2 linked regions of the Homo sapiens genome follow. The protein of the gene in region 1 purifies or fractionates together with the protein of each later gene. This does not show direct contact. Each region holds a gene or a part of one and is shown on either strand. Other genes may lie near its edges.

Region 1 (3,500 bases):
ACGTGTGCACAGGTTCATGGACACACACACACACACACACTCATAAAAACATTACCCTTACAGTATACAATGCTCTGATATTTAAAAATTCTATTCATTTAAAAAAAGAACTGCCAGCTGCAACTGACTACATTATTTTCACAAGTTTGGAAAAACACAGCTTTCTAGTTCAGTGTGTTACTGGTCTGTGACAAGGAGCTTGCGCCAGAAGGTAAGTCCATGCACTGCTTCACTCATTAAGGTCTTGCTAGAAAACAGAAATGAGTGGAAATAGACTGCATGCTCAGTGATATAGCTAATTCACATTCTGCCTAAGTCCCTTAGCTCACCGGGGGCCAGACAAGAGCTGCTCCCCAACAGGCACTAGCCCCCAGGACATTCTTTGAAAGCGCAGCTGTATCTTGCTAATCTCATAATTTTGATACTTACTTCCCTGCTCAAAAACTTTCAGTGATTCCTCCGTCATTTAAAGTCTAAATCTACTTGCCTGATGGTAAAGTTCTCTAATGACATGACCCTGACCTACTTAATTCCTGATTATTTCCCCAACATCAAACCTATACTGCACTCAAATTATTATTTTTTGAGATGGAGTCTCGTTCTGTTGCCCAGGCTGGAGTGCGGTGGCGCAATCTCGGCTTGCTGCAGCCTCTGCTCCCCCAGTTCAGGCGATTCTCCTGTCTCAGTCTCCTGAGTAGCTGGGACTACAGGCATGCGCCACCACGCCCAGCTAATTTTTGTATTTTTTGTAGAGACGGTTTTGCCATGTTGGGCAGGCTGGTTTCAAACTCCTGACCTCAAGTGATCCACCCGCTTTGGTCTCTCAAAAGTGCTGGGATTACAGGTATGAGCCACCGCACCTGGCCACACTCAAAATTATTCCTCACTGGTTTTCAAATTCACATCCAGTCCCCTGTGCCTTTGCTCTGTTTGGAGCTGCTCCTACTACTGCCTGTTGAAATTTGCAGCTCGAATGCCACCCTCCCTGCCCTGAGAGACTCAGATAGGCATGGCCAATGAGACATCAGTTGAGCACAAGTGGTCCAAACTTGAATTCACTGACTGCCCTTTCTTCCTGCTGGTCACCTCCTCTGAAGGGCTTGCATCTCATTCATCTCTGTCCTTGGTCTCCTCTAGTTCCTGACACAGCAGGTGTCAGAAGACTTGTCAAAACACATCTGGAAGGCAAGGCGGGGCAGGAAGTTCACCCCCCACAAGTGAACCCTGGCACCTTGTCCTGTGCTCAGCTCCCCAGGCTCCCTTCTACCCCACTCCTTCCAGGCCCCTGTGCCCACACACACCCTCAGTGCCAACTGCCCGCAGTGGGTGCACATTGTGTTTGTAGACGAACTTCTCCTCTAGCACCATCTGGATGGCAACGATGATCTGGGCCATGATGATCAACAGGTCCCCTGTGGGGAAGGAGGGACCCAGATGAGAACAGGGCTGCACTGGGGCTGGGGGCCAGGAGAGCATGGCCACAGCGACCAAACATGCCAGCCCCTGACCTCTGCAGGGCCCCCTATAGTTCATAGGCACAGTCACCACTGCCTGTCCCTGATTCCCTGGTTCCTGAGGGGCATGCCAGCAGTGCCAGGCTAAGGCCCCAGAGGCCTGCCTGTGTCTAAGAGCTGCCCCACGGGGTATGACGCAGGTCTTTCAAGAAGCAACAGGCTTTGAGATAGACATTTCTTGGTTGATCCTGACCCTAAGTGACCCAGGACAGTCATTTCATTGTAAAATGGGCTGTGATGCATCCGTTTGGGGCCTGTGGGAGTCACTGTGATGATGAACACACAGTGCTCAGCACCAGGCTGGGCACTTGGTAAGCACCTGTTCCTTTCCACTCCCAAATCCAGTAGTTTGCATGTCTGCATCTGTATCAAAGGACAAGCCAGCCCCTCGCCCTGCCCGGCCTGCCACTCATCCTTGGTGGAGCCACATCCCTTTGCAGTCTTCCCTACATTCTATCCATCACCTCCAGAGCTACCCACCTCACCCAGGGCTTGGTATATGGCACATGGCAGAGCTTGTATGAGTCTGTGCTGGGCTCCCAAGGAGGACAGGGCAGGATAGGGCAGCCCCGTGTCCCTGCCCCTGGCCGCACCTGTGATCACTTCGCTGAGCTTGTGCTGACTGTCGTGCTTGCTCAGGAGGTCAGCCAGGCCCACGACCACCAGCCCCGCGATGGTGGCTAGGATGCCCAGCCACTGGCTCAGCACCAGCCTCCGGCCCAGGAAGGCCACCGAGAACAGGCCAGTGAATATGATCACTGCACCCCGCAGCATCTGGAAGCTGGAGGCACTGGTCATGTTCAGAGCTAGGAAAGGAGAAACAAATTACAGTTAGCTTCCCAAGGCGAAGGCCATCTGTCACTAAGGGGTCTTTGGTGATAGACATGCCAAGCTCATAGTAAGCGCTCGATCAGTCCTGCCTGTGTGCCTGTGCGTGTGAAGTCTGGGGGAATGGTGGGATGAAGTGGAGGTGGGTGGGATAGGGCTGTTTCACCAGTAGCCCCTTCAGCCACAGCTTCCCCTGAGCCCTTCTCAGCCTGGCCTGGTTACTCACCCACATACATGAGGCTGGTCCCTGTCATGTCACAGAGCGCTGGGGGCAGGAAAAGAAGAGGGTTGAAGGGCTGCTGGGGGTCTACGCTGGAGTCTGATTGCCCTGCAGCTCTGCATCGGAGGAGGTAGAAGGCAGCCAGGCAGGAGAATTCTCCCAGGAACATGCCCACTGCCTGCAGGGATGAAAACCCGAGGACTTCAGAGCTGGAAGGGATCTCGGGGATCATCTTTAACTATTTTTTTTAATGCAAACTTTTGTCAAACAAGAGCTTACCCAGAACCCCAATATGTAAAATAGACAAATGCAGAGCTGCCATGGAGGCTAGAGACAGCCTCCTAGGTCTGCCCCAAAGCCCCCATACATCCTGATGAACCCTAAGGCTGTGCAGAGCCCTGTCTGAAAACCATCCATCTAGGCCAACCCCTAGTCAAATCGCAGGTGGAGAAGCCTAGACCCAAGAGAGGCTCAAAGACTTATGTAAGGCCACAAAGCAAGTTGCTGGTAGAGCTGGGGCTGACATTTGAGTCTCCTGATTCTCAGTTCAACGAACAGTGTCTTCCATTTATGGTGTCTGCCCTGTCCCAATTGGGGTCTGGGCTCCCAGTGGATAGAGAGCTGACTTTTGTCACTAGGGCTGATGTTTTCCACGTGTCCTGACTTGGATGTGGTGAGGACATGACCACTTGCCAGGACTTTCGCAGAGGATGGTGCTCTTTGCCCTATTCTAAACCTTGGATTCTGCTCTGGGGAGGGAAAGAGAGAAGTGGATGGCTCTTCTGGGAGCAGGAGACACCTCCACTCCTAAGTCAGGAAACAGCCTGGCCTCATGGCCGGGGGTGGCGCCTGGTCTGAGGCCCGGGAGACAGGAGGTAGGAGGGACAGGGCCAGATACCTGGAGGAAGGGATGCTGGAAGCTGTGCTCCTTGCTCCCT
Region 2 (3,500 bases), on another chromosome or scaffold:
ACCTCCGCCTCCCAGGTTCAAGCAATTCTCCTGCCTCAGCCTCCGGAGTAGCTGGGATTACAGGCGCACGTCACCACGCTCGGCTAATACTTGTATTTTCAGTAGAGACAAGGTTTTGCCATGTTGGCCAGGCTGGTCTCGAACTCCTGCCCTCAGGTGATCTGCCTGCCTCGGCCTCCCAAAGTGCTGGGATTGCAGGCATGAGCCACCACATCCAGCCTGTGCTCTCAATTTTAGACTTTTTAAAACAGACCCTTCATCCCAAATCTTTTCTCTTGATGGACAGCTAAAAAATAAGCTATTTGATTTTTCAAGATTTTGAAGTCCATTCGTTTTAGGAAGTCCCAAGTGATCAACACCAATAACTAATAAATGAACACTTCCATTTTTCAGCCAAACTTGACACATTTGTTACTTTATTACTTGCCACATTTATTTATTTTTTATTATTGGACCTGCTGGCCAATGTTGAATTTAACCAGAGCAAAATTCTACCTGTACCTCACCTGAAAGGGTTTTTCTTTTTCTTTTTTTTTTTTCTTTTTTTTGAGACAAGGTCTCACTCTGTTGGCCAGGCTGGAGTGCAGTGGCGCAATCTGGGCTTACTAGCAGCCTTGACCTGTGATTCTCTCACCTCAGCCTCCCAAATAGCTGGAACTACAGGCATGTGCCACCATGCCTGGCTAATTTTTTGTATTTTTAGTAGAGATGGGGTTTTGCCATGTTGCCCAGGCTGGTCTCGAACTCCTGGCCTCAAGTGATCCTCCTGCCTCAGCCTCCCAAAGGGCTGGGATTACAGCCACCGTGCCTAACCTGTTCTTTTTCTTTATCCCATATTTTAGGCACAGATTACTTGCAGTCTACTAAAGTGAGTCACTCTGAACCAAGCACAGAATTCAAAGGAAGCTGGCTCTAACTTGGAGCCCCAGCTCTGTCTCTCCTGCGCTGTGAGACCTGAAAGCAACTCACTTCCACAGCTTTCTTTGTAAAATGGGGTTAATATTATTAGCCCACCTCTCAGAGCTGTTGCAAAGGCTCAGTGGGACAGTATGAGGGAAAGCATTTTGGATAATGCTTAGAAAATGGATTTGGTTATTAGGTTATTACAAGGATTATTACAGAAACTCACTATGAGTGACATGATATAATAATATACATCTAAATATGCTAGCTTTTGCTCTGAAGCCTCTTGCTCTGCCAAAGCCAGCTGCCTGATCTTCCCACACCTGAACATACACCATTTTCAGCGGCAGGAAGGGATATAGCTGAAGTTACACCTGCAGCCTGAACTGAGGAGCAGATGGCCATGTCTACCAAAACCTTTGAAATTCATTCAATTACTTCTAAAAATCTTTTTTTGTTGTTGTTAAGAAAAAAAGAAAGGTGAGATATTAAATTCTTAGTTATAGTTTTCTCATTTTTTTCCCACCTTGCACAGGGCTCTCTTCTCTTCTCTTTTTTTTTTTTTTTTTTGAGACAGAGTCTTGCTTGTTGTCCAGGCTGTAGTGCAGTGGCACAATCTCAGCTCACTGCAACCTCCACCTCCTGGGTTCAAGCAATTCTCCCACCTCAGCCTCCCCAGTAGCTGGGATTACAGGCGTGCGCCACCATGCGTGACTAATTTTTGTATTTTTAGTAGAGATGGAGTTTTACCATGTTGGCCAGCCTGGCCTCAAACTCCCGACCTCAGGTGATCCACCTGCCTCGGCCTTCCAAAGTGCTGGGATTGCAGGCATGAGCCACTGTGCCCAGCCTTTTTTTTTTTTTTTTTTTTGAGGCAGGGTCTTGCTCTGTTGCCCAGGCTGGAGTGCAGTGGCGTGATCATGGCTCACTGCAGCCTTGAATTCCTGGGCTCAAGCGATCCTCTCACATTGGCCTCCCAGAGTGCTGGGATTACAGATATGAGCCGTCATGCCTGGCCAAAGCTGTCTTTCCAGGGTGATTTCAGGGACAAGCCCGCTCAATACTTTAAAAAGACATGTCTGTTTACCTGGAGTTGTTATCAACTCTGTTTGCCTATTATATAGCCTTGAGGTTTGAGAGTCTGAGAAGTCACACCTGGGACCTCAATCAGCCTCCTCATTTTAGAGATGGGAGACTGAGGCCCAGAGACTGCCCAGCAACACACAGTGGGATATTTGACTTCTCAGGGTTACCATCTTTCTCCCATGCTGTGGGGAGCTGGGTGTTCCTTCTGGGAAGCGATGAAAGTTGGAAAGTACTTGTAAATATTAGCCTTTGATTCTTGCTAAGATGTGAGGAGTGCCCTCCCCTACAACGGATCATATTTTAAGCTGTTACCAGTCATTTAAAGTCAGGCATCTGGGTGGGGTAGCAGACAAGGCTCAGGCAGAGACAAGAGGACACAAGGACTTGAGAATTTTGCTCTGGACTGACCCCATTGCCTCAGCCAGAAGGCCACCTCATGGAAACTTTACTGGAAGAAACTTCCCCAAACTGACTTTGGGGAACTTTCGGAGGCAGGGTTCCTCGCAGGCTGGGCTGTCACAGTCGACTTGCTCTCAAAGGCTTACTCCAGGGAGCCTGGTGCCCCTGCCAGCGCTCCCAGGTGGCTGGGTTTCTGGGCTGCAGAGGGGTGGGATCCCTGCCAGACCCTTGCCCAGACCACTCCCATTGCTGCTTCGTGCAGCCCAGGTTGCTGGGTTCTGCCTTCCCTTCCGACCTGACTCTGAAAACCTGGCTTCACCTGGCTCCCCACCCTTTCTGCTCCCGGCTTGTCTCGTGGGCCCCAGGCAGCAGGCCCCATCCTCACCTGCAGAACTTGTTCTTGCTGTAAGCCTAGGTGAGCCAAGCACTCACTTCTGTAACCAAATATGTGTCCCGGATTAGGGCTTTGTTCCCTTGGCTGTGGAAACCCTGGGAACTCCTGGCTGGATAGCGCTGCTCTTTTTCCCTTACTCTAGCTCTCTCGCTCTTTCTGTTTCTCTGGCTCTCTCATTTCTTTGTCTCATTCTCCACCTCTCTCTTTTGAGGGCACCCCCTCCTTCTCATTCTCTTTCTGCCTCCCACGACAATAAGTAGGAAATTAAGCCCACCAGCGAGCTGAGCATCTGCAGTGATTCTGCATCTTCCAGGCATCAGCGCTGCCTCTTAGCGGATGGCCATTTCACAGTCCCCTCTCCTGAGATGGACTGGGCTGCCTGCCACCAATCCTCCTACCCTCCAAGCTGCTTAGGCCAGTCTCCCATGCTTGACGGGACCTCATTTCCAAAAGAAACGTAAGAAACCAGTCACATCTCCCCATGCTGTGACCTCATCTCACGGATCCCCTCCACAGTCCCATGAAGGAGGCTGGGCAGGTGCGACAGGGATGCAAAGAAGAGACTCAGCCGAGGCCAGCGGCCATTGGAAGCAGATCGGTGCCCTGACTCACGGCCCAGCCCTTTCCATTGCACCCAGGAATTGGCCACCCTGCCCTGGAGAGGCCTCCTGATCCTGGCCTAGTACCTCTAGGTGACTTCTCCTGCCCCAGGGTGAGG

What was found.
Region 2: the proteins of SLC35F6 (region 1) and ECE1 purify together in Homo sapiens (co-immunoprecipitation; one large-scale study listed by IntAct). This does not show direct contact.

Annotation. Positions count from the first base shown.
Region 1 is NC_000002.12:26,774,284-26,777,783, reverse strand, and holds part of SLC35F6 (solute carrier family 35 member F6 precursor), read right to left. Parts: coding exon 3,461-3,500; intron 2,741-3,460; coding exon 2,569-2,740; intron 2,321-2,568; coding exon 2,108-2,320; intron 1,413-2,107; coding exon 1,302-1,412; intron 1-1,301. UniProt on the Homo sapiens protein: Involved in the maintenance of mitochondrial membrane potential in pancreatic ductal adenocarcinoma (PDAC) cells. Promotes pancreatic ductal adenocarcinoma (PDAC) cell growth. May play a role as a nucleotide-sugar transporter.
Region 2 is NC_000001.11:21,283,964-21,287,463, reverse strand, and holds part of ECE1 (endothelin-converting enzyme 1), read left to right. Parts: intron 1-3,500. UniProt on the Homo sapiens protein: Converts big endothelin-1 to endothelin-1.